Homo sapiens: one gene and its partners. The protein of the gene in region 1 purifies or fractionates together with the protein of each later gene. This does not show direct contact. Each region holds a gene or a part of one and is shown in the gene's direction. Other genes may lie near its edges.

Region 1 (7,029 bases):
CAGGCAGTCACTCAGGGCCTCAGGTTGCTGGAGGCACAGCCATCTTCAGCTCTGGAGGGCATCTCCATTCCTAGTGTGCTGTATTACAAACAGCTTTTCTTTCTTCCAATGTCTCCAGCTTTCTGGCAGCATAGCTAGCCTCCTGCACACTCAGGCCATAATTGCTTAACTCAAAATGGTGTGATTCAAATTCACCCTCAGAGGCATGCTTGAAGGCATTCAAATTTGAACGCCTCTTTCACCCTTCTCTGATTAGATGTTCTTTTGTACTCACTTCTGCCCTTCCTTTCTTCCTATCTTTGAATAGGTTTTACTAGTTGCATTTGCTTCTTATGTTACCTCTCTATTTAATGATTGATTGATTGATTGAGACAGAGTCTTGCTTTTTCGCCCAGGATGGAGTGCAGTGGCACAATCTCAGCTCACTGCAACCTCTGCCTCCTGCGTTCAAGCGATTCTCATGTCTTGGCCTCCCAAATAGCTGGAATTACAGACATAAGCCACCACACCCGGCTAATTTTTGCATTTTTAGTAAAAACAGGGTTTCACCACGTTGCCCAGGCTGGTCTTGAACTCCTGACCTCAACTGATCCACCTGCCTCGGCCTCCCACCTGTCTCGGCCTCCCAAAGTGCTTACAGGCATGCGCCACCACACCCAGCTGTTATCTCTCACCATTTAGCTAAACTACTGGCAGTCTACGACCACTCCACCCCTTCTCTGCTTCAGGAGATACTTTTCAAAAGTCACTTGTGAGCAAGTGGTAAGCTGTTGCCTTACCTCAGAAAGCAGCTTCTTTTCCCTGCTGTTTTCTTGTGGGGTCTCTCATTCATCTTTCTCCTTTGTAGCTCTTACATTTCCTTCTAGAAATCTTCTCCTCCTTCATGTTTCCTTCTCTCTCCTTGCTGCCTCTCCCACATTTCTCCTCTTCCAGCCTCCATGTAAGTTGCCAGCCTCATTTAATCAACTGTTACTAGCAGCTGCATTTCATTTCCCTTTTATTCTCTACCTTTTCAGCTGACCCAGGTGGGCTGCATTTTCTTTCACTCTGACGTTCTCTTAGACCACTCACTCAGGACTACTCGTTCAACGACAGTCTCTTGTGGAGCAATTTTCCAGACTGCAAACCCTGCTCAATTTCCAAACTCCTGCATCTAGTTTACATCTGTTTGTCTCTGGCAGTAGTTCAAACCCTCCTCCCCCAATGGAAAGCTCTGGCAAGGAGTTTATTGCTCACCCTGGAAAGAGAGAACCACCTCAACAGAGATTGATAGTCTCTAGAGGGGCAAGGTGGGAAAATTATGAGATTTTGGAGTAGGGTGGCCAACTGTCACACTTTGCCCAAGACAGAGGGAATTCCAAGGATATGGGCTTTGCATTTTAAAGCCAGGACAAAAAAATGAAAGATTGTATAAAGAGGATCTTTCCATGCAGGGTCTTGTTTAGGTAAAAATCATGACATAATAGTTTAGGATTAGCATAGTGAGGATTTGGAAGTGAGGAGTTCTAAGATCTTGGGGTATAAACTGTTGATGCTTTCTGTTGAAGCATTGATGGTTCTTTGTTTCAAAAACTCTCTGTAATGAACAATAAAGCAATTTGCCTGGGCAAGAGTCTCCTGGAATTGTAGTTATGTTAATGAGGACAATGGACCAGTAAGGGTATATTATTATAGACAGTAAGCTGTGTGTTTAGGGAGGAGAGAGGTAGGTGATTTCTGTTCTCAGAGTTAACTCCATCCTCTCTTTTCCAAGGTCTGTTTCATATTCAGTGTCCTTAGTTGAAATGCCTAGTTGAAAAAACCAGAGAGTTTTTTCTAATTTTGCAAGAATGTCACAACATCTCCAGTCCCAAGTCCCTGATGTCTCTTCTAGCTTTCATTGCACTTATGAAAATAACAATAATAAAAGCATTATTTTAGAGCCCTAACTATGTGGAGGCCAAACATAAAATCCCTCATGAATATTATTTAATCCTCACAAAAGCCCCACAAAAGAGGTGTTGTTAATTGTTCCTATTTTACAGACAGGAAAACTATGGCTCAAAGAGGCCAAGAAACTTGTCCAAGGTCATATAATCAGAAGTGGCAGAGCCAAGACTCTATTTCGAGTCCATCTGGGCTATTCAGAAATAAAAAGGAGTGAACTACTAATTCATGTTACAACATGGATGAACCTCACAGACATTATGCTAAATGAAAGAAGGCAGACACAAAAGACTGCCTGTTATATGATTCCATTTATATGAAATGTCCAGATAAGGCAAATTTATAAAGAAAGAAAACTGATCAGTGGTTTCTAGGCATAAAGGAGCAAGTGGAGACTAACTGCAGATGGGCCTATGGTTACTTTTGTCATTGACAGAAATGTTCTAACCTGTGATGATGGTTTCAAAATCATGTAATGTTACTAAAAATCATTGAACTGTATGCCTACATACAATGTTTGAAGTTTATGGAATGTAAATTCTTTTTCAATAAAACTTTAAAAATTACAGAGGTCACATTCTAAGCTTTCTGACTGGTACCACCAATGACTAGATGCTGGTTCTTTTAGGTGCCACTCCTAAGGAGAAATGCTAAAGGTTTACTGGGTTCTTATATACTTTTCATGTAAGCATAGGGAATGCCTTAAACTCTTTTAGCCAATCAACCTATGTTGAATATGTTTAATTTAACCAGTGAGAGTTCATTTCTAGCAGTTACTTATTTCTCTAATGCTAACTGTGCATTCTTGATCAGCATTTATATAAACCTAAGTATGTAAGTTACTGACACACGATATTGCACTATACATGCAGAAGTGTCTTCGATTGCTGACATGACAAAATAAACCCAAGTGAACTGTGAAGACTTACCACTTCTGTACATCTGGTATGGCAATGACAGAGCCTTACTGTCCATCTTGCTGTGCTGTCGTTCATCATAAAATTCCCTCATCCTCCCACTCCAACACTCATTGTCTTGGCCAGAATACTTATAAATAATAAAGATATTTGTCTTCAACTCCTCACCAAATCATTGGAGGGATTTTTCTTTTTTCTCTAAATGTAAAAGAAAAAAAATTCTGATACTACAATTAAGAACAATGTAGCCCATAAATTAAAGTGGACAGAAACCAAGCCAACAATGCAAAAGAGCTGAGCAGCCATTGGGTCCCCGTGAGGAGACAGGAGTAGTTTGTCATTGATGGGACCCCTGGCAGCTACAGCCCCTGGGGTACCCTGTGGCGTAAATGCATATTTTTCTCATGAACGTTTGTTAAAACTGATTTATGTTGTTTTGTCTTTGATAAGAACAGATACGGATGCATTATAGTGACTGTGTTCCTTGTAACTTATACAGAGAAATTCGGAATACCAGGAACTTAACTTACATAGACCCTGATGCCCTCAAAGAGCTCCCCCTCCTAAAGTTCCTGTAAGTATTAAATCCTCTCCCATCCTACTTTTCTGGGGGGAGGGGGTCAGATTTAATGCTGTTGTCTCCCAGGAATCTCCCTAGATGATGTGGTCCAGGTTCATTTTAATGGTGTATAGCCTGGGTCGGGGGCAAGGTATCGGGTGAAATGATCCACATTTTTAAAACCTATTCAAAAGTCAGCACATAATGCTGGAACCAGAGACCTGCTCCAAGAAACAGGAGGGAGAAAATGCTATCATGTATATGTGGTCCTTAAATGTAGTATTTCAGAACAAAACAAAACAAAATTCTGAGAGCCAGTTGGTCAATTTTGTTTGAAAATGGGTATCACAACAATATTATTAGAGTGGCTGTTACACAGGAAAAAAAACCCACAAAGAGTAAAATACACTTCCATGGGGAGTGGAGGGAAAACAGAAGGGACAACAGTTTCAACCTCCCACTCCAGCACTCAAATGTCCAGCACTCACTGCTTTGCTTTGAAAACACCTTATGAGCTAACCATAAGCTCCATGAATCCAGGGACCACAACATTTTTTTTCTCTGTTGAATCTTTACTGCCTAGTACAGAGTAGGCGCTCAGTACAAATGTGTTCAGTGGATGTGTCTGTATGACCTCAGGCCCCCTGGATACCAGGTGGAAGAGTCCTTTTTCCTACTTGCATGCATTATAAAGATTAGAAAACAAAGAGTATGAAGAAGAAAATTGTTAAAAAAAACTTAATCCCAAACCCCAAAATAAGCACTATTAACATTTCAGTTCATCTTCATCCAGACCTTCAAAACAAACTTATGTTATCATAGATATTTTATGAGATAAGCCCTTAAGGATGAATAGAGGGTATCTTGAACAAGAATGGGGAGATAGAAAAGAAATTTAGCTGGATGGAATAGCATGATAAAGACACAAATGTAGGGAACCACGCAGCTTCTTTGGGGAACTAAAAATAGTTGCTTTTTTTTTTTTTTTTTTGAGATAGAGTCTTGCTCTGTTGCCCCAGGCTGGAGTGCAGTGGTGTGATCTTGGCTCACTGCAACCGCCACTTCCTGCATTCAAGCGATTCTCCTGCCTCAGCCTCCCGAGTAGCTGGGATTACAGGTGTGCACCACCATGCCCAGCTAATTTTTGTATTTTTAGTAGAGATGGGGTTTCACCATGTTGGCCAGGCTGGTGTCGAACTCCTGACCTCAGGTGATCCACCCGCCTCAGCCTCCCAAAGTGCTGGGACTACAGGCATGAGCCACTGTGCCTGGCCAATAGTTGTATATTGAAGAGGTGGGTGTGAGAGATGCCAGGGGAATGGAAGACACTGATGGGATATGAAGATGAAAGGATGTCTGGAAAGCCATGAAAGCTTATGGGACAAGACAATCACTCTTCTTATGGACTCTGAGTTTCAAATAATACAATAACCCTTTGATGTGATGATCCCCCACTATATGCTCTGTGGGGAACATACAGGTTTCTAAGACATTGTCCTTGCCTGTAATCTAGTTGAGGAGATGTGTATGAAATTGAAAAGTGCCTCTCCTACAGAAGAATAATGGAAAGTGACGAAGGAGAGACATATACAGTGTTTGGGGGTTCAGGTAATTAGAGAAGACATCAGAAAGAAGACCCACAGCATGGTTTTAAGGGACTTGTTTGAGATTTTTGAAGAATAGAAAGATCTTGATCCAAGTATATGGACCCCACTTGACTCTTGGACCTTTTTCCCTCCTACTGTTCTTCATGAGCACCTATTGCAATTGAACTAGTTCGTTTACTGTATTTCAAATATACCTTATGGAATCTCACCTCTCTCCTTTGTTATCTGGAATGTCCCTCCCATTTGCTGATTTTGAGACCTCTGGCTCCTGCTGCCTCTTCAAATCCTATGCCTTCTTCTCTAGAAGGAGTCAAGTCTGAATTTGCCTCAGAAGGAGTATCAATGGATATAGTTTTTCTACCAGAAGACCTTCTCTAGAGCTTTACTGAGTAGTGTCTAGATCTCACTCTATGCTATGCCAAATTCTCAAAAAAAAAAAAATTCTAATTACATTCAAGTAGCTGCAACAAATGTTAAAACAACTAAATCTGGGAGGCATCAGGAGCCTGAGAATTCTTGTATTCATGGTGTTTTATGCATGTCTTTTAATCTTAACATTTTTCTGTAGATGATATAAACTACAGAAGGTAAAGACTTTGTCTTTGATTGGTTTCCTTCCTTTTCTGGACACTGTCTTTTTTTGAGACAGAGTCGCCCTCTGTCACCCAGGCTGGAGTGCAGTGGCATGATCTCGGCTCACTGCAACCTCCACCTCCCAGGTTCAAGTGATTCTCATGCCTCAGCCTCCCAAGTAGCTGGGATTACAGGCGCATGCCAACACATGCAGCTAATTTTTGTATTTTTAGTAGAGACAGGGTTTCGCCATGTTAGGCTAGTCTTGAATTCCTGGACTCAAGTGATCCACCTGCCTTGGCCTCCCAAAGTGTTAGGATTATAGGCGTGAGCCCCTGTGCCCGGCTCTCTGGACATATTTTTTTAAATGGTACTGTTATAATGGTACTCTCAGGTCACTGCTGTAGGAAAGATATTCTTGGCAAAATAACAGCATAATATCATGTAGAGCTTGAAAGAGGAAGCTGGCTTAAAGTCATCATATCTTCCTGTCCCATCTTCTTCTTAGCCCTTCACTAACAAACACATAATTTTTTCCAATTAAACGAGAAAATCACACACACACACACACGAAAACTGAATTTATATTTCTAGTAAACCCACTTGGTTAAAACAATCTCCAGAGCATTCTAAGCCGAGCAGATGTATTGACACCAGTGGACTGGATTAAATTATTATGCCTTGAGGGAATATCATCTCATCCAACCATCAGAACTTGCCCATAGTTACTCAGATATTTAGGGAAGGTGTTGGGAGTTTGACTACAGGTTGTCTTCAGAACCCATGCTTTCAGCTATTACATTATTCTCCTTCCTATGTGTTGATTTTTTTACCTAAATTCTATGCTTTTTTTTCTCTTTTTTTCATTAATTTAGTGGCATTTTCAACACTGGACTTAAAATGTTCCCTGACCTGACCAAAGTTTATTCCACTGATATATTCTTTATACTGTAAGTATGCACACATGCCATGTTTGACAATATTTTGTTTGTCACTGACAAGAACTAGAATACAGTCATGAGGGTAGGTTGAAGATAAGTAAAGCAATTGTTTCAAGGAGTAAGCAATGATCAGGTGTGACTACACTGGCATGAAGTAAGGCAAGGACTGAGAAATAACCACTGGCTTTAGCAATGTGGTTTGTTGGTGACTCTGCCAAGAACAGTTCCAGTGGAGTGCTGGTTGGAGTGGGCTCAAGAGAGACTTGGGTAGACAGAATTAGAAAGAGTTACCATAATTAACTCTTTTGAGAGGTTTTACTATTAAAAGGAGCAGAAAATAGCTCAGTAATTGCAAGATATTGAGTCAGGAGAAAAGATTTTGTTTGTGTGTTTTTGTTTTTAAATGGAAGAAATTATGCAATGTTTCTTTGCCAATGGGAATGGTTGAATAGAAGGAATATTTGATGATAACTATGATACCTTATTTTTCATAGAGTTTTAATAGT
Region 2 (7,029 bases), on another chromosome or scaffold:
GGGGCTCATTGGAGAAATTTGAGCAGGGGAGCCACAAGATTAAATTTGAGTATTAAGGCATTCTGGTTATGGTGTAAAATGGGTTAGCAAGCTTTTTCTTTAAAGGACCAGGTGGGAAATATTTTGGACTATGTGGTCTCTGTCATATCTACTTAACCGTGCTGTTGTCTGCTGTTGTAGTGTGAAAGCCACCATGATTATATGTAAGCAAACAGGCATGACTGAGCTCCTATAAAACTTTATTTACAAAACCATAATGCAGATTGGATTTGGCCTGTGGCCTATAGTTTCCTGGGATTGATGGGAGATAATCATGCAAAGAAACCAGGAGACAAAGGAAGCTTTTGCAGTAGTCAGCTATAGTTTCCATGTCACACATCCTTGGAGTAGCATCAATGTATTACAAGGTTTTCACCCGTCCATGGTAAAATAAATAACGTTAGAAATCTCAGTTACTCATTTTACTATGTTGGCCTTCGTTATGCCTTTTTCACTTGTTTTGCTTAATTTTTTTTCCTGTAAGAAATAACATTAATAGTTGGCAGTTTTCTTTTAAATAGAAGTCATTTTGTAAATGTTTGTGTTCCCAGTGGCAGTGGGAATATAAAACAGAGGCAGAAGAGAGGTATAGTCAATATGATTTAGTGATAATTGAATGAGAAAGGCTTGGGGGACAGAGAGAAATCTCAGATGATGTACAGGTTTCCAGATTGCACACTAGTATTTAACCTGGACATGAGGAAGGAGTAGGAAATTTTCTGGTGAATACAGGAGAGCAAAGAGCAGCAGGTCAGCAGGAATGACTAATGTTTTTCGATGCATGTTTAATGGAATATTCGTGTAGGGTATTTTGAGTAGGTAATTGGATAATCAGCATTTATAACTCGCATCCTACTAGTTTGACTCTAAGTAATAAGACTTGTCAAAGATCCAAGAATCTGAAAGTCAGTAATAAATGTCCATGTGCATCATCGTCCGTGACAGAAAGTCAGCATCCACAGAACACAGAATTGGGACAGATGAACTTAATAGATAAAGATGAATATCGGAGTTGTTCCTCTTAGGGAATGATACTCTCCATGACCTGTGTGAGTCACAGCTGCCAGAAAAGAAAGAGCAAGGAGCGTATGAAGGCAGCACAGCAAATTCGGTCCTAGAGTGCCCTGCTTGGCTTCATGTCATAGTTCTGACTTCTAAATAATCATTTTCTGCAAAATGTGCTTTTTGTTTTTCCCTCTTGCCGCCTGCAGCCAATCAGAATCTTTTTAGCAGGACATAATGAAAAGAAGTAAGAGAAAGAGTGTTTTTTTGTAATGGGATAGTATTTAACGTAAACTTGAGAGTGAGTACCAGGATTATACTTAGAATTTATGGACTGGATGGGAAGACTGGATAGAAATCTAAAGATTGCTGACTCAAACACAATGTGGTTTCTTTGATTTATTTTCACAGCTCTGAATTCACGACTGTTAATTGTATTCATATGCATTATAACTTTACAAAGCATCTTCCGAAACCAAATATTTACTGATTTATTATAATTTGTATGACTTTATTATAGAACTGACTTTCCAAGTGTTCATGAGAATTGTTTAGAATTTGCTACATTGTATCATCTCAGCTGTGTCCACATGAGCTATCTGTCACCTTGTCTTAATGAATAATTGTTCACTAGGAATATTGGTTTTGGCATTGAAATGATCTATATCTAAATGCAGATAGGACCCGGGACCACTTTTGAACATTAATGTTCAAGCATCTTAAAATTACACATAATGCTTTCATAATCTGACTTCTGCCCCACTCTCCATCTTTAGCCCTTTTCCCTGTGTGCCCTGTCTCTGGCATTACTGAACTGCTGGCAGTGCCCTACTCACTCATCCTTCTATTGTAGGCAAATACTTTCACTCTTTCAGGAGTCGCTCCCGCTCTTGCTGCTGCGTGGCATGCCGTCACCCTTTCCTGCCCTCTACACCTTTTAATCTGGCTAGTCTCAATATTTAAGTCTCTGCTTGGGCATGTGTTCTAGAAAAGCCATCTCTGACATGCTTTATTTTAATTCTTTTTAAACCCTAATGCCTAGCATGTATTTAGCAGGACTCAATAAAATATTTCTGAGTAAAACAAAGACTGTTTTTACAAAGATGATGTGCAAGACTCTCCCCTGCAGTCTTGGAGCAGAGGGGACAGACGTGGAGGAATAATGTACAGTTTAGGTGGTCAAGATGCAGTAGAAAAATCAGTAAAGTACTAAGGCAGCCTCAAGGAAGGAGGTACCTGTTTATTTGGGGAAAGACATGCAGAATCAAGGAAGACTTCATATAGCATTGTTTCAAAAGATGAAAATAAGGCCAGGTGTGGTGGCTCACACCTGTAATCCCAGCACTTTCAGAGGGAATCACGAGGTCAGGAGATCGAGACCATCCTGTCCAATGGTGAAACCCCATCTCTACTAAAAATACAAAAATCAGCTGGGTGTGGTGGTGCTTGCCTGTAATCACAGTTACTCAGGAGACTGAAGCAGGAGAATCACTTGAACCAGGGTCGCGGAGGTTGCAGTGAGCTGATCACACCACTGCATTCCAGCCTGGTGACAGAGGAAGACTCTAGCTCATAAAAAAAAAAAAAGAAAAAAGAAAAAAAGAAAATAAATTTGTCAGAATAGTGGAGAGAAACATTTTAGATATTAGGAAGATGTTGTACACTAATAAAGGTGTCAGCAGTGATTTTGGAAATCATTTATAAGGTACTATTAGGAAGTGGAGAACAGTACACTGTGTCACCTTATATGTTTCTACTGTATTTTAAAGCTGTGTTTCTGGTGGTTTTGTTCATGGATGTTGGGTGGATGAATTTGTGAGGGAATTTTTGACATGTTTGTTTGTCTTCAATCTGGTGACATCTGCTATCTCCCCAAGTGGGTTTTTGAAGTTTTTGAGAATTATTTCTTAAATGACAATTTCACAAAAGATGAAACACTCAATTTATGAAATAAAATGAAATGTCTCAAATCTGTTTTTAAAAGGCAATAGTTTTTAACTGTTTTAAGTGGTTGATTTTAACTGAATGTATGGATTTTTCAACAGAACAAGACTTAAAGCTGACATCAGAGGAAGAGTCACAAAGGCTTAAAGGCAGTGAAAATGGCCAGCCAGAGGCATGGAAACTTTTAAATTTAAACTTTTGTTTAATGTTGTGTTTTTTTTGCCTTAATAATATTAGATAGTCCAAATGAAATTACCTTTCAGACTAGGCTTTGAGAATCAGTAGATTGTTTTTTTAAGAATCTTTTGGCCAGGCAAGGTGGCTCACGCCTGTAATCCCAGCACTTTGAGAGGCTGAGGCAGGTGGATCACGAGGTCTGGAGATCGAGACCATCCTGGCTAACATGGTGAAACCCCGTCTCTAGTAAAAATACAAAAACTTAGCTGGGCGTGGTGGTGGGTGCCTGTAGTCCCAGCTACTCGGGAGGCTGAGGCAGGAGAATGGCATGAACCCAGGAGAGGGAGCTTGCAGTGAGCCGACATCCACCACTACACTCCAGCCTGGGTGACAGAGCGAGACTCCATGTGAAAAAAAAAAAAAAAAAAATTTTAATAGATTCTTAAAATTTATTGTAATAAAATCAGCAACCTTATTAACAGAAGAATCAATAGATTCTAATTTAATATTTGATATTTAACTTCAACATAACCCACTATAAAATTTAAAATACTCTTATTTTAAAATATTCTTATCTGCCTTCTTGATTAGCTTATAGCTAATCTCTCCTTTTGGAATAGAGGCAAAAACAAATTTCAGAACTTTGTTTGTTCTTTTATTTTTACAACACCCTAACATGATAAAGAAAGTAACATCAATGATTGAATCATATTATTAAGCAATAGGAATTATGAACAATGTAACACTGATTCCCTGAGCTGGATTCATGGTTAAAGAGTAATCATGGCCTGTGATTGAAAATCCACAGTTTTATATTGTCAGTCACTGATACCAAGGTTAAGGACATATCCTGCCTTGTGGTCTCTCGTTGACCTCAGTGTTTCTGTTCAGGGAGGGAACCAGGTCATAAAAGCAACCCAACTGCCTATTACAAGAACCATATCTTGCAGAATGGGACCTTTGGTGTTAGTGCACAAACACAATAACATTCTAATTTATTTCAGTTGCAGAAAATCAGTAGAGATTAAAAAATTTTATCTGCTGTCATTAGTACACATTAGAATATATTAGAACTGGACTTACGCAGATAATCTGGATACATAACACTATCATATGACAGTATATAATTTCAATTAAAATGTGAGAATTTGCATTTCTTTCTGTTTGGTGTTGATTTCGGCTCCTAATAGTTTAAAGGGTGCCTACAATCCAGTTAGGAATCTTTTAAAAAAGCACTTCAGTGCACTGTAGGTGCTCACTAGTTAGGGTTTCATGAGGTAAACTCTTTTCAAGTGAGGAAGATTTTGGAACACTACAAATCATCTGCTGATTCATTTTTGGTAGATTTAACACATAACAAATTAAATTTAGTCCAAACAAATAGTGAGAAAGTTAAGTTTGCTGGTTCATGTTTTTCTTCTCCCTTTGTCTAAGGTGAATTATTTTTCACATGTTAGAAGCCAGTGATGTGGCAGTAGCTAAACATAGATTAAAAAGTTAATTCTTAATTTTAATTATTATTTATTTTAACAGTTTAATTTTAATTACTTTCTAATTTTTATTGTCCATACTTGATTACTTCAGAATAAAATTATTTTAAAAACATGCACTCCAAAAGAGGAAATGTCACAGAAATACAACAAGCAAATTAACCTTCTGTTTTTACATCTGCAGAAAAGATCTCAAGAACCAGAAATAAATAAGGATGGTGATAGAGAGGTATACCTTTATATTCAAACGTTTGTGTTGAATTAGATTTTTACATTATGTTGTTTAACAAAGTGTAGTAAATGTAGGCATACATGATCCTATCATGTAAGTAGCATAAATCATCAGTGAAAAATTAAATAGTTAACTCAGAATTCTGTACATTGAATTTTGAAGAGGTGCAAACCCTAGAGCTATTCTTTCATTATTATGGAATAATCCCGAATGGTGCCATAAAATGCTAGGTAATGCCACTTTAGGAGCTTTAGACCAATTATTTTATCTTTCTTGGTTTTAGTCTGATTATCAATAGATAATGTGCCTAAAGTAGATAATTTCTTATTCTCTGTATTTTCCAGCTAGAAAATTTTATGGCTATCGAAGAAATGAAGAAGCACAGAAGTACTCATGTCGGATTCCCAGAAAACCTGACTAATGGTGCCACTGCTGGCAATGGTGATGATGGATTAATTCCTCCAAGGAAGAGCAGAACACCTGAAAGCCAGCAATTTCCTGACACTGAGAATGAAGAGTATCACAGGTAAGCCTATGGCAACATTGAACAGGAGGTAACTTTGTGCTGCCAAACTAATCCTAATTTGAGCTAATATTCATGATGAACAAATTTTATACTTTTATTAGGATATTGAGCCTTGCCTGTTAATCAGAAAAATGAAAATCAGCAAACAATCAGTTACCGTTTTTTTTCCAGTCATTAATTTATTTGAAAAATAACCAGTATTGGCAAATGTGAGGGAAAAGACATTTTCTTCTCTTTTCAGTGAACTTTTATTTTAGCTTCGGGGTACGTGTGCAGGTTTATTATATAGGTAAACTGTATCATGGAGGCTTGGGGTACAGATTATTTCACCAGCCACATAGTAAACAAAATACTCGAAAGGTAGTTTTTTGGTCGTCTCCCTCCTGCCATGCTCCTCCCTCAAGTAGGCCCCAGTGTATGTTATTCTCCTCTTTGTGTCCATGAGTTCTCATGTTTAGTTCCCACTAATGAGTAAGAATATGTGGCATTTGATTTTCTGTTCCTGCATGAGTTTTCTTAGGATAATGGCCTCCAGCTCCATCCGTGTTGCTGCAGGGGAAATGGTTTCATTGAAAAAGACATTTCATATACTGTTGGTAAATACATTTTGAACATTAATTGAGTAGCATATTCACACACACATATATAACAGTAAGCATATATAATACATGTAAAGGATATTTGTATAGATATGTTATATGTATACTTATGTATAAGGACATTTATTATAGTATTATGTAAAAAATTTGGAGCTAGTCTAATTCCTTATCAATAGGAAATAGCTCAATTTCCATATCCCCAAAATAATGTATTATGCAACCATTTTTAAAAAATGAGGTTAGATGTAGGGTATACTGATTATTTCACAATTAAAATGTATTTAAAGCGTTTAGTTTGATGACACATCTTAAGAGTTCTTGTTAAATTTCTTGTAATATCTGCTGTGTTGCAAATGGAAGCTACATGCTACATTGACACTGTACCTTGTTAGCAACAAGATTGCTAGTTACTAAATTTTTGTTGTCAGTGCCTGAGTGCTGAAATATTGGACCCTCAATCTGAATATTGCCAAGCGATTGTACATGGGGATCTATATTTAATATAAACATTTCAGTATATTTGGTAAAACTTTTATTAAAATACATCAAAGAATCTTTGATCTACTAAACCAGGAGTTGGCCAGCTTTTTCTGCAAAGAGCTAGTTAGTAAATATTTTAGGCTTTGTGGACTACATATATTGATTTTCTTGAGACAGGGTCTCACTCTGTTTCCCAGGCTGGAGTGCAGTTGTGTGATCATGGCTGACTGCAGCCTCGACTTTCTGGGCTCTAGTGATCCTCTGACCTCAGTCTCTACTAGCTGAGACCACGGGTGTGCAACATCACACCCAGCTAACTGACACTATGGACTGTAAAGTGAATAAGCATGGCTGTGTTCCAAGATACTTGACTTACAAAAACGGGCAGTGGGCTGGATTTGGCCCACAGGTGCTTATTTGCTGACCCTTGTGCTAAAAGGAAGGTGCTGCTAATGCAGTGACTTTTATTTGTAAAAGTGCCCTGCATGTGTGACATTATCCTCCCTTTGAGAAAAGGATATATTTCAGTATTTACCTCAC
Region 3 (7,029 bases), on another chromosome or scaffold:
ATCAGAGGAATCACTGTCTATGGTAGCTATAGCCTTATGAAATATATTTCTTAAATAAGACTTAAAAGTCAAAGTTACTCCTTGATCAGTGGGCTGCAGAATGGATGTTGTGTTAGCAGGCATGAAAACAACATTAATCTTGTACATCTCCATCACAGCTCTTGGGTGATCAGGTGCGTTGTCAATGAGCAATAATATTTTGAAGGAATCTTTTCTTTTCTAAGCAGTAGATCTCAATGGTGGGCTTAAACTAAACCGTGCTGTAAACAGATGTGCTGTCATCTAGGCTTTATTATTTATAGAAAACAGGCAGAGGAGATTTAGCATAATTCTTAATGGCCCTAGAATTTTTAGGATAGTAAATGATTATTGGCTTCAACTTGAAGTCACCAGCTGCTTTAGCCTCTAACAAGAGAGTCAGCCTGTCCTTTGAATCTTTGAAGCCAGGCATTGACTTCTCTATAGCTATGAAAGTCCTAAATGGCATCTTCTTCCAAAAGGAGGCCATTTCATCTCCATTAAAAATCTGTTGCTGGCCGGGCTCGGTGGCTCATGCCTGTAATCTCAGCACTTTGGGAGGCCGAGGTGGGCAGTTCACGAGTTCAGGAGTTCAAGACCAGCCTGGCCAACATAGTGAAACCCCATCTCAGCTAAAAATACCAAAAATTAGCCTGGCTTGGTGGTGGGAGCCTGTAATCCCAGTTACTTGGGAGGCTGAGGTAGGAGAATGGCTTGAACCCGGGAGACGGAGGTGGCAGTGAGCTGAGATTGCACATTGCACTCCAGCCTGGGTGACAGAGCGAGACTCCATCTCAAAATAAATAAATAAATAAATAAAAAATAAGTCTGTTGCTTAGTGTAGCTACTTTCATGAATGATGTTAGCTACATCTTCTAGGTAGTTTACTACAGCTTCTATATCAGCATTTGCTGCTTTCCCTTGCACTTTTATGTTATGGAGATGGCTTCTTTCTTTAAATCTTGTGAACCAACCTCTGCTACCTTCCAACTTTTCTTCTCTAGCTTCCTCACCTCTCTCAGCCTTCATAGAACTGAAGAGAGTTAGGGTTGCTCTGAATTAGGCTTTGGCTTAAGGGAACATTGTGGCTTGTTTGATCATCTATCCAGACCACTTCATATCAGCAATAAGGCTGTTTTATTATCATTTGTGTGTTTACTGGAGTAGCACTTTTAATTTCCTTCAAGAACTTTTCCTTTGCATTCACAACTTAGCTAACTGGCTCAAGAGACCTAGCTTTTGGCGTATCTTGGCTTTCAACATAACTTCCTCACTAAGCATAATCATTTCTAGCTCTTGATTTAAAGTGAGAAACAGGTGACTGTTCCTTTCACTTGAACACTTACAGGCCATTGTAGGATATTAATTGGCCTAGTTTCATGTTGATCATATTCTTTATGTTGTCATGGTTCTGTCATAATTCTTTTAGTTCTATGTTTTAATAGTTTTGGTGCTTATTACCAGTACTGTTGCTTCTCCATTCCCGAGTTAGTCCATCTCCTGATTGAATTTCATTGTCAGGCAGTCTTTTCAAGTTACAGGTACTGCATGCATTCTTTGGGTTCTTATACACTTCATTGATTCAAAATATTTGTCTTTTGTTTTTATATTACTTGAAGGATTACTTGGCTAGGTATAAAATTTATCAGTCACACTTTATTCCCCCTCAACTTTGTAAATGTTGTTCCATAATCTCCTAGTGTTTGATTGGCTGGATTTCTTTGTCCAATGTTTTCTCTTTTTATTAGGAAGAATTTGTGAGTATTATAGTCTCTGAGTTTCAATGCTTGCTGTTTTCTTTAATGCTTGAGAATGTCTGTCTATTGCTTTCGTTCCTGAAAAATAACTTGTTTGGGAACACTTTCATTAGAACTTTGTGGTCCCTGTTTTATTATTTTGGGACATCTAGTGTTACTGTAGAAAAGTCTGATTTTTCTCCCTACCTCCTTGAAGGCAATTTTTTTTTTTAATCTAAAATGCCTGAGAGTTTTCTTCTTTATTTTTGAAATTCAGTAATATAAACAAGGTATATCTAAGTGTCACTTATAATCATTTTTCCCTAAATTATAGTATGCCCTTAGTTCTTCTAAGAACATTTTCCTTGTTTATTACCATGAATACTTTTTTTTGGTCAAATTATTAGATCCTCTACTTCATGACACCAGTTTTTTTAATACTGAATTTTCTTTTGTTGTTCGTATGTATTCTAATTGCTTTGATTTGTCTTTTACCTTTGCATTTACTGTGATCATCTGAAGCCTTTCTTTTTGTCAATAATTCTGTTTTCTCCAGTGTCTGTCCTGTTTTTGATATTTTAAATGAATTAATTGGTTAAGTCATTGTGTTATATAGGCTCTAAGTTTCTTTAGCGCTACAAACGCATTTTCATCTTATTCTGCTTCTTCTTGCTTTTGAGCTTGTTTATTATAAGGTTGTATTGTTTTCAAGTTCTTCATTATGATGAAGTTGTTGAGAATTTTCTTTAGTTTTTATTGGGTTATGTATCCTTCCAGAATGGGTTCTTTGCCACTTGTGTGCCCTATTCATTTCTTCATTTTGTGTTCTTTCTTGCTTTTTATTCCCTGTATGTGCGTGTTTCTTTTTGTCAGGCTGTAATACATATGCATACATGTTTCTTCTTGATGTGGGAGAACTTCTATGTGGTGCTGATGGGAAATATTTTTAATACTCCACTCTCCTTACCCAAGTTTGTTTTTCTCCTGAGCCCTAGTTTGAAAGCTGTATATTGTTGGAGTGGAGGGAAAGAGAAGGGAAAAGTGGTGATTCAGAGAGCCAAATGGGGCAATGTGGCTTTTAGGCTCTGCTCTCTTGAAGTACCAAGTATTTCACTCTTGGGTCTGCCCAACTGCTTATGAATAAAATTCCTTTGCCTTGTATGGGGACATCATTCGACCTCAGAGCTCTCATTTCTCTTTGTTCTGAGCCCTAGAATGTGACCTGACCTTCTCCTTCCCAAAGCAAAGAGATGGTTAAAACTCACTCTTGAAATTTTTTTGTTGACTTTTCCTTGTGTTGCTTATTCATTCCTCGGCTCTACTTTTTGTCATTTTGGAGTGTATTTCTGGTAAGTGTTTAGGATTTTGTAAACTATTTCCCTACAACCTCTTATTGGAGGTAGGGGTAGAGTTGGGAATGACCATCAATCACATATAACTTTGTTTCTTATTTTGACTATCAGTCTTCAAAATTTATGGCAGGCCCTTTTATATTTGGTTGCTGCTAATAAAATGTTGGCCTTTTTGTTTTATTTTTTGTTTTTATTTTTTGTTTTATTAGATTTTGAAGAAGGGAGATTCTAAAATGTAGTTCAGGTTTTCTCAGTGTCAGCACAAATAACATTTTGGGTTGGATAATTATTTGTTGTGAGGGGGTTGCCCTGTGCAGAGTAGGATATTTAACAACATCCCTGGCTTCTACCCACTAGATGCCAGTAGCATTCCCCTAGTTAAGACAACCAAAAACATCTTCAGACATTGCCAAATATTCCCTGGGGAGAAAAGCACCCTGATTTGAGAGCCACTGATCAATTTTGTTCATTCATCTTTACTCCCCCTAAATACCTACATCCAAATTTTAAATAGATCTTTCTCATGTAGTCTGGCAAGTATTATATCAAAGATAAATACCAGTTTTAGAATAAAGCATTAATATACTCTTACATTTCAACTTAAGAGGCAAATATTAACAGTAGGATTTGTAAACTATTTATTGGAATAAAAATCAATGAATTTTTAAAAATTACAAAATGATTTATGTATGTTAGATATTTTACTGAGTGAAAAAATTCATGCTTTTTTAAATGACTTATTGTTTGGAGTAGTGATACAGTAGATTTAATTTCCCCCCTCATTAATTAAAATCATGTTTTAGCCAAGAAAGTGAACAAAATTCTTATTGGCAATTCAGTTGTTTCCCGTTTTGGAGACTGACACGCTCCAGTTCTAAGTTAAATAATTGTCATGGTAAAGTAATTTCCTTGAAAAGAACAGACATTGATTCAGCCCCTGTTACTCACAAATCCTATTTGAGTCAAATTGGAAAACTATTAAGTTTTTGGGAAAAAAATCAATAGGTATCAGGAAACCATTAGATCTTGTGGCCCTTGCTATATCTTGCATGAGTAATCACTGTAAACAGCTGACAGGTATTTCATTGTTGACACCGAGTGATGCTTGGGGGACCACATCTTGGCAGAGTAGGTGGACAGCTTTAGACGCTGGAATGAGTTTGATTATCCTTGTTTTTCTCCTACACTCATTCTTTTAGACAGCCCTGTCACTAACTGGGCCTGTGATGCTTTCAAAAATCAAATACTTTCCTTGCTGTCAGTTTTCTTTTTCTTGCGTTGTGGCATACTAATCAGGGTATGTGGTTTGGTACTGAACCAATTTCTGTCAAAAGCAAGTTTTAATTTATTATTTAGGAAAAATTTTTCCTAAGACCCAGGTTTTATACAGTACTAAATAAATAGTGTGAGGAATAATTAGTAATGCCATAGAGTATATAATTTTACTTCTAGTTCTACACAGATTACAAGTAAATTTTTTTTGGGCAAGTGATTTTGGAATTATCTATGTTTTGTTTTCCTTTTCCTTTAGAGTGATAATTCACTATTTATGATTGAATGATTATCATATTAAAGAGGTGAGAAAATAAAAATAAGTCTGATGTGCACAAAGCCATACTGCTCAAATTGTTTGATAATATCTGTTAATTAAATTATTATGGCATCGGTAGAAGAATGATGTTTTGTTTATATGTGGTTAGAATTGGTCTTTTTTAAAGGAAATAACAAGAGAGATGGAAATGGAATGGGTATAAATAGTAAAAGGTTCTATCACTATAATTCCCTTTTGCTATAAATAGTTAAAGCTTCTATCACTATAATTTCCATAAGAAGATATATGTGTTTACCTGTTAATTTTATCAGGGCAAATTAAAACATGGATAGAATCATGTTTCTCAGTGTGAAGAAATATTTTTATTTGATGAATATTATATATTTTCAGGTGCAGTGGCTTCTATGTTTTGGGTTGATGCTGAATTAGGGAGTGATATTTATCTTGATGGTAAGTTAAAAAACAGTTTTCTTTTATCTTTCTTGTTTTTTTTTTTTTTTCTGAGACAGAGTCTCACTTTGTTGCCCAGACTGGAGTGCATGGAGTGCAGTGGCATGATCTCGGCTCACTGCAACCTTTACCTCCTGGGTTCAAGTGATTCTCTTGCCTCAGCCTCCCGAGTAGCTGGGACTACAGGCGTGCACCATCGTACCTGGCTAATTTTTGGATTTTTAGTAGAGACGGGGTTTCGCCATGTTGGCCTGACTGGTCTTGAACCCCTGACTTCAGGTGATCCGCCAGCCTCGGCCTCCCAAAGTGCTGGGATTACAGGCGTGAGCCACCACACCCTGCCTCTTTTGTTTTTTAGTAAAATCTTTATGGTTAAGCTTATTGTTGTTGTTCATTCATATTATAACTTTAATTCCTTGCATTGTTGTTCTTTTCACACTTTAGTTTAATGATGAAATCTTTGTTCATATAGATTAAAAAACCCCAGACAGTGGTGGAACTCGATGTCACTCAACTTCCAATTTAGTGCTTCCACTAAGGTTTTCTTTAAAAAAAAAAATGCTTTGTAGGTTTTCTGTATCCTCTGTTGTTTGATTTATGCCCTTAATATAATGTTAGAGCCTTTTATTTTAATCCTCCAGGCAATATGAGGATCATATTTTTGCTTTTATTTTCTCTTGAAGATAAGAATTAAACACTCCTGTCTTACTTTATTTACCTGAACACTTTTGGGCAATGATATGCCTTCATTTAAAATATATTAGAAACTTTCTTAGTTAAGCGACTATGTTTTCTCCCTTTCTCAGTCGAAATTTTCTTACTTTTTCAAAAGTAATAATCATTAAGAAATTTAAGAATTATTAAGCTGGGCCCCATCATTGAGCTCTAATATATGTGGCGGGTAACTGGTTGAATTCCTTAGGCATAATTAAACTCATTCTTTTGTTATCAGCATATATTCAGAGATTGCAAAATGAATTGGTAGTTTGGAAACTTAGGCATATGTTATGTAGAACATTTATGAGTTGGATTTGGATTTGGTGAGAGATGTTAGGAATGATACCTTAAGATGTCTCATTCTTTAGGCAATAATTTAAATCTTAAGAAAAGTCTTGATTTTGATTATGTGAAAATAAACTAGAAATAACCTGTCTTATGTACTTATCACATTTGACTATGTTATGAAATTTGACTTATATTTTGGATTGTAAGCTTTTTCAGTGCCAAGGAAATCTTATTTTCTTATTTATTTAATTTAAAATTTTTATTTGTTTTATATCGTTTCTAGTGCCTTAAAATAGTGCTAGCCACTCAGGAAATGCATTGACTTATTACTGGAATTTAATTAAATGGCAGCACTGGCAAGAGAAAAAAACAGTACATTGTTTTATTGAGTAGTATTTGTGAACTGAAATAGGTTAGTTTTAATTTTCATTTTGAAGTATGGTTGTACAAATATTAATAAACATTCTTTTTAAAAAGTGATTAAAATGTTTTTTCCTTTGTAGGTATCATAACTATTGTGGATTCAAAATATGGATTAAAAGTAAGTTGAAAGATTGCTATGAGTGGGTCATTATTGAGAGCTGGGAATATGGGGATTGATTGTTTAATTTTCTTTATGTTTGTATCTGAAATTTTCTTTAACAAAAACCTTTCTCAAAAAGATATCCTGAACAATAGGTGAAATTTGTGTTTTAATTATTAGTTTGTGTTAAATATTTCTTTTCTATTACTCTGAGTTTGATTTGGTGATAAAATTTGGAATTATAATTTGTAATAAGCATATGGGGTTAGGGTAGAGTTTGGTATGTATAACTCTTCACAAGGATTCAACCCCAATATTGGTAAGTTTTTCTGTTCCATAGAAGAAGCTGAGCTTGATAAAGCATCTGAGATCTTATTTTTCTTGTTAAATTAC
Region 4 (7,029 bases), on another chromosome or scaffold:
TGGAATTTATGCCTAATTGTATGACTTTAATTTTCCTAGTTTTTCACTAAAGATGTCATCGTACCCTCTCCTTGGACTGATCATGAAGGGAAACAGCTTTCACAATGTCATTCCAGTAAATGTGAGTGTACTAAAAATGATATGAATAAAAATCAAAAAAGTCGGTGAATATAAAGCAACATATCATGAAGTGCCAGTATATCTGCTTTGTAAGAAGCTTGCTTTAAAATTCTGGATAACATAGAATTTAACTCCTTTTAGGGTTAGAATTAAAAATTTGACTAAAATTTATTGAATTGTTTTTTAGCTGTTATACTCTGAATTTAACTTTTTCTTCATGACTATTGTGAATGTCAGTTATAATGATGGTTATAGAGGATCCATAGATGAAGAAATAGTTGGTATTGAATATAGAGATGAGTTGTTAATGACTTTAGCAGTATTTTGAAGGTTAATATTTTAGATAAAACCGTAAATTGTGTTGCCTTTTGCTAATTTGCTGATTTCTTATAAAGGTAAAGAAAGGATGAAGACTTAATATGACCTCTGGGACAGTGTATTATTGCTGAGTATCTGCAAAATTAATAAGGAAATTAAAGGGCAAGCCAGTAAGCTAACAATTATCTTTCTACCTCCAGGCAATGGTTGTCATATATTTGTTCTCACTGCTCTTTGGGTTGTGAGGCAGTATTCAGGAATCACTTGTATATATGCATCCCTCATCACAGTGGAATTACACTGTCTATTGTAGTATACCTTAATTATGCTCTCAGTATAAGAGGGAATGTTTGTTCCATTCTTTATCAAAAAACACAACATAATAATACAACAATAATAGGTAAGCTGGGTTAGTACTTTCTCTATGCCAGGACAGTGCTAAGTGCTTTCAGTAATTTCTTATAACTCATATGAAGTAGGTGTAATTATTGGCCCCATTTTATAGGTAAGAAAACCTAGTTTTAGAAAGATGAGAGCATTTGTCCAGGGTTACAGAGATGATAAAAGTGGGAAAACCTGAATTCAAAATTCTCAAATCAGATGCTGTATTCTTAGCCATTATGAATTAGTGGTAGCACGCAATAGTAGATGGAAATCTGGATTGTAAAACCTCCTACTTTTATAAACCAGAGAGGTGACCTTGATCAAATTATTCTCTTTGTACCTCAGTCTTTTATTTGTGAAATAAAAGGATTGAACTAGAGTTGTCCATTTACATCCCCCCAGCTCTAAAATTGTGTGTCCAAGGTGGCATTCTCATAGATACTAGTTTTTCACCCCCAGATTCTTTACTGTTGGATTTTTTCAACAGATGAATCAACCTTCTTAAGTGATTTTTTAAATAACATTTTTGTATTCCAAGTATCCTGTTTTAGTTCAAGTGATGCAGGATCAAGAAGATGCTTAAAAACACTTTAGACTCTTTGAAATCTAATCAAGCCCACGATAACAGTGCAGTGGTTAATAGGATAGGCTCCAGAGCTGTGCTGTTTACTGTGTTGTTGGGAGACAATTCTCCATAGGCCTCACATTTCTGCACACCTTTCATGAAGTGGCATGGACAAGTTCTGTTCCAAACTATCTTTTCTAGGGTGTTTGTCTTGGAAGGTAGAGATAGTGTGTCCCACCAGAGCAGAGGGTAAGTTTGTTTTGCTGTCCAGTATAGTAAAGATGATGTCTCCCTCTGGAGCAGATTTGTTTGCAGTCTCTCTTAAAAGAATGGGATTTCCTAAGCTTGGGGTTCCTTAGCTATGGTGAAAACCCATTGTGTGTCCACCAGCCACCTGGGTATTTTAATTTAGAATCTTTTAAGATAGAGAGCACTCCTCCCATGATTAGGAGAGACACAAGATGGAAATAAAAATTTTATTACTTACAAGTCCTAGGGGTACACAGCATACCTGAACACCACACAGGGAGGTCAGGAAGAGAGAGAAAGGGACCCATGGGCCAACGCCTTTATTGGGTCCAGGGCATTATCCAAACAGAGTTTTAGTTGGTGGGTTTAAAGCAAGCAGGCATGCATTGAGGAGGTCACACAGTGACTGAGAGATAGTCACTGTGGCATGTCTGTGTAGTCCATGTGCGGTATGAGGGTTGGGGGGTCAGTCAGGTAGGCCATATGTAGATGGCCCATAGGGAGGTGGTTACCAGGAGGAATTTATATAAGGCAGATATCTGGATCAACCACATTGAGGTATAGAACTGGAAACTGTGTCGGGTGAATGAGCCCTGCTTTTTGTATGAGAAAGTCCAGCTTGTATGCAGAATTATAAGAATTCACTGCACTGGACTGTTTCATGTCATCTTCTTGGCACTTGGGAGCAAAGGGAATTAATAGGAATGTTAAGTTCATGCTGCCTGCTGTGCTGAAAATAATAAAGTCCTTTATCTCTGCCCCCAGAAGCCTCATGTCTTTAGCCAGCACCAATGGAACTTTGACATGTTCACCTGTTAGTTGCCAAGTTGGGTAGAATCTTAGACCCTTTATAGTTCTTGACAGTTGTGGCCACGTGTGACTATTTAAATTTAAAGTTAAATTTAAAAATGGAGTTCCCCATTCACAATATTCACATTTCAGGTGCTCAATAGCCATGTGGATATCGAGTAGTATAGATAGAGAACATTCCCATCATCACAGAAAATGTTCTATTGGATGCTACTTTAGGGCCAAGGTTGGCAGCCCTTAAGTGTAAAGGATTCAATAATAAATACTTAAGCCTTTACTGACCACACAACCTCTGTTGGAACCACTCCACTCTACTGCTGTACCACAAAAGTAGCCGCTGACAATATGTAAATGAATGTGAGTGTGTACCAGTAAAACTGTATTTAAAAAAATAGGTGAAAGGCCAGATTTGCACCATGAACAATAGTTTGCTGACCCTTACTCTAGTGTAATATTATCTAGGTTTGAATTGTACCCAGTAAAGCTCACTAGCTGTGTGACTTTAGATGAGTTACTTAGCTTTTCTGTGCCTCAGTTTCCTTATCTATAAAATGATGGTTATTGTGGTACCTCTAAGATAATGTACCTAGCACATGGTGTTTGGTTATCTACCTAAAGATTAACAAATAAAATGGTGAATGAGGGGAAAAGTGGTTTTGTTTATACATGTTAGCTTGTGCTGGTAGCATTTACTATTATTAATATTTATGCAGCAAGGTGCTTCAGTGCATATCCTCATGTGTTTTTATTTATGGACTTGAGTGAGAATTTCCCTGGGATATATACGCAGGTAGAGGATTTCTGAGTTATAGAATATATCGTTACCTAATCTGACTACACAGTATTAGAGTGCTCTCTAGAATATCTGCACAGTCTGCACAGCCCCAGCAGTCCCTAGGGTTCCTGTGTCCCAGCATCCCTGCCTGCCCTTGGCATTATCCAGCTTTTACATCTTTGCCTTTCCTATAGGTTATTTGACATTCTAAATGATTGTTTCAGTTTTCTTTTTGTCTTCATAGACTAATGACCTTTTACATTTCATAGAAAATGTCTATTTGTAATTCATTGATATGTTTCAATTGGAGTTGCTAACCTTTTTTTTCCTGTTAATTTCTAAGATACCTTACATATTGTGGTTATATTGGTCTTAAACATTTCAAATGTTATCTCCCATTCTGTCATATGTATGTTACTCTTTGTTCTTGATATCCTGGGTTGCATAGAAATTTTTATTTTGGTGCAGTCAAATCCATCGATTTTTTTTTTTCCTCATTTGATTGTGGTCTTAAACTTGTCTAAGCCCTTCTAGGGGAAGCAACCAAAACACTTGGAATAGAGTTGAAAAGTGATGTGATAATGTTGCTGTAGGTGTCTTTCTGGTCTGAGGAAGGCAAGGAAGGCATGCTGGCAGAAGATAAAATTTAAGCTGAGATTTGAGTTAGACTCTTGGAATGCAGGGGAGAAAAGGCAGGGAGGAGAGAGCATAAGATAATACCTAGAGATGAGAGAGATACCTGTTTCTTGTTTGTTTGTTTTAGGTACTCAAATAATATTTAATTAGATGGCAACCATGCTAGAGAAATAGACATGGTTTTGAAAGGCTTTGTAAGCCATTGAGGTGTTTGGATTTTATCCTAAAGACTATTGCAGGGTTTTAGGCAGAGAGAGTATTGATTACATCTGCCTTATAGAAGGTCACTCTGCATGCAGTGACAAAGTCATCTGCATCCAAAATTTTCTTTATTTACCCGTTTTGATAGTATTTCACAGGGAAATTTAATTTATTCAGCAACCCACTTACCCATTTTAAAATTTAGAATTGTTAGGTTACTACACTCTATTTTGTCATTTTATTTTAGAATTCCTGAGTTGTTTCTGGTTTTGGGGGGAGGGGGGGTTTGTTTGGTCCCCTTGCTTTTTCTTCCTTTTATCTTACTTATATTAGTCTTTTTGAGATGGTTTTGGTTTTTGAGTTTTTTTAATCTGGTGATTTTTCAATTTATAAAACTTTAGAGTTAAAATAATTTGCACCCATATTTTTAACTCTTCTTGTGAAAGAAACTATATGGTTTTATTGATCAAATTTCAGGTTTTGTCAAAATAATCTGGCATTTTAATCTGTTGAGGACATTGAGGGTAGCTAAAAGGTATCCCTAACCTTTTAAGGTTGACGTCATGAAGAGTAATCATCATTTCCTTAAAAAAAAAACATTACTTTGGGATTCATCAGTCCTACTACTGGGTATTTATCCAAAGGAACCAAAATTACTATTTCAAAGAGATACCTGCACTCTCATATTTATTGCTGCATCGTTAATCACAACAGCCAAGATATGGAGTCAACCTAAGTGTCCATCAACAGATGAATGGACTTTTTAAAATGTGATATATATATATATACACACACACACACACACACACACACACACACACACACACACACAAAATGGAATACTATTCAGCCTTAAAAAAGAGGAAATTTTGTCATTTGTGACAACATATATGAATCTAGAGGACATTATGCTAAGTGAAAAAAGCCAGCCACAGAAAGACAAATACTGAATGATTTCACTTATATGTAGAATCTAAAAAAGTCAGACTCTTAGAAGTAGAGAATAGAGTGGTGGTTACCAGACGGTAGGGAGGAGGGGTGGTGGGGGAGATGTTGGTCAAAGGGTACAAAGTTTCAGTTAGACAGGAGGAATAAGTTCTGGTGATCTGTTGCACAGCCAGGTAACTATAGCTGATAATGAGGTATCATATAGTTCAAAATTGCTGAAAGTGGATTTTAAATGTTCCCACCACAAAGAAAAGTATTTGAGGCAATGGATATGTTAATTAGCTTGATTTGCTCTTGTCATAGTGTATACATATATTGAAACATCACATTGTACCCCATAAATGTATACAATTATTTAAAGAAAAATGTAAAAAAAATATTGCTTGGTGACTCCTTATTTGCTGTGGTAATCCTTTAGTTTTATCCTTGTATTCCCTCAAAGGTAAAAAAATAATAGAAACATACCAAAATATATACTTATATATGCAGATTTTTTTTAATGTTGCAAAATAAGTTTCCACTTTCTTAATTTTTTACTTTGGAAAAAGTAATGCTAAAGCAAATGAAGAGTATAAAACATAGGATTTTTCACTTAAAATGTCTTACAGGCACTAACATAAATAGTGACTCTCCAGTTGGAAAAAAGCTGACCATTCATTCTGAGAAAAGCGATGGTGAGTATGAACACAATTTGAAAAGAAGGATGTTCCATATTAAGCTACATTGAATTCTAAACCCAGTTCAGGTAGTAACACTTTACTCTGGAATTGAAATTGTTTCCTTTTTTTTTTTTTAATTTATTTTTGTTTTTTTGAGACAGGGTCACACTCTGTCACCCAGGCTGGAGTGCAGTGGCACAATCAAGAGCTCATTGCAACCTTGACTTCCCGTTGACTTCCCGAGCTCCAGTGATCCTCCCACCGCAGCCTCCTCAGTAGCTAGGACTACAGGCACCCGCCACCACACCTGGCTAATTTTTGTATTTTTTTGTAGAGACAGCATTTCGCCATGTTGCCCAGGCTGGTCTCGAACTCCTGGGCTCAAGCGATCTGCCCACTTTGGCCCCCCAAAGTGCTAGGATTACAGGCATGAGCCACCAAGCCTGGCCTGTTTGGATTTTTTCAATGAGCTACATAATAACCATATGAGAGCTGACCTTTAAAAACAAGTATAGTAGAACAGATGCATCCAGCCATGTTTTAGAAATAGCACTAGTGTTTTGTTTTCTTGTTCAAAGCATGTGAATTGATTTCTGGTCTTGGAAAGCATTCTTTTGAAAATTGGTTAATGTGAGAAATCTCCCCCCAGATATAGGCTGGCTTCCTTTTCAAGTGCCAGTACCAGAGCCAGGAGTTAACTTTTACTATTAACACGTTTACACCAGTTGCGGAGAGTGTGGGAAACCACTTCTAGAAAGGTGGCAGGGTATGTGATAGAATGCAGAAATGAATAATTCCATTTGGCTGGAACATCACGGGGAGATGATTGACTGGGCAGCACATGCTGAATTGTATAGTGTATACTTTCATTGATTTATCCCATGTTTGAATTTGTTTATTTATTTGCTTGTTTCCAGCTGCTTGTCAGACATTGCTGTCTCTTCCTGTGGATTTTAATTTAGAAAATATATTAGGTAAATACTGTATTTGTTTAAACTTTTAATAACTTGAACCAAAGGTTTTGTTTGGCTGGCTTTTTGTAAATGGTAACATGGGAAATATGTGGCAGTGCCTCTTTCTAAAGAAGTGGGGAAACTGCCCTGAAATTTCTCTTTTTCTTGAACATGGTTTGAACTAGCCTTATTATCATAGTGAACTTTATTACTATAGACAGAAACTATAAACATTTTATTGATATTATACTAACAATGTAGCACTTAAAAACTAAGGAATAATTTAAGATGTAAAACATCAAATATGCAATTAAACTTTGCCCTCTTTTTGGGAAAAAATTCAAACATAGTGCATGCTGGCTTCTTAAAAGTTGAGTAACAGAAGTATAATTGCCCTTTAAAATGACTAGC

What was found.
Region 2: the proteins of TSHR (region 1) and POTEF purify together in Homo sapiens (affinity purification with mass spectrometry; 3 studies listed by BioGRID and IntAct, with this or other methods). This does not show direct contact.
Region 3: the proteins of TSHR (region 1) and ZNG1A purify together in Homo sapiens (affinity purification with mass spectrometry; 2 studies listed by BioGRID and IntAct, with this or other methods). This does not show direct contact.
Region 4: the proteins of TSHR (region 1) and BORA purify together in Homo sapiens (affinity purification with mass spectrometry; 3 studies listed by BioGRID and IntAct, with this or other methods). This does not show direct contact.

The regions. Positions count from the first base shown.
Region 1 is NC_000014.9:81,084,612-81,091,640, forward strand, and holds part of TSHR (thyrotropin receptor isoform 1 precursor), read left to right. Parts: exon of another isoform or gene 1-3,304; coding exon of another isoform or gene 3,305-3,342; coding exon 3,343-3,417; exon of another isoform or gene 3,418-6,457; coding exon 6,458-6,532; exon of another isoform or gene 6,533-7,029. UniProt on the Homo sapiens protein: Receptor for the thyroid-stimulating hormone (TSH) or thyrotropin. Also acts as a receptor for the heterodimeric glycoprotein hormone (GPHA2:GPHB5) or thyrostimulin. The activity of this receptor is mediated by G proteins which activate adenylate cyclase.
Region 2 is NC_000002.12:130,084,195-130,091,223, reverse strand, and holds part of POTEF (POTE ankyrin domain family member F), read left to right. Parts: intron 1-3,086; coding exon 3,087-3,157; intron 3,158-4,836; coding exon 4,837-4,881; intron 4,882-5,228; coding exon 5,229-5,410; intron 5,411-7,029.
Region 3 is NC_000009.12:162,057-169,085, reverse strand, and holds part of ZNG1A (zinc-regulated GTPase metalloprotein activator 1A), read left to right. Parts: intron 1-4,637; exon of another isoform or gene 4,638-4,683; intron 4,684-5,048; coding exon 5,049-5,108; intron 5,109-6,616; coding exon 6,617-6,654; intron 6,655-7,029. UniProt on the Homo sapiens protein: Zinc chaperone that directly transfers zinc cofactor to target metalloproteins, thereby activating them.
Region 4 is NC_000013.11:72,737,923-72,744,951, forward strand, and holds part of BORA (protein aurora borealis), read left to right. Parts: intron 1-39; coding exon 40-121; intron 122-5,614; coding exon 5,615-5,680; intron 5,681-6,582; coding exon 6,583-6,639; intron 6,640-7,029. UniProt on the Homo sapiens protein: Required for the activation of AURKA at the onset of mitosis.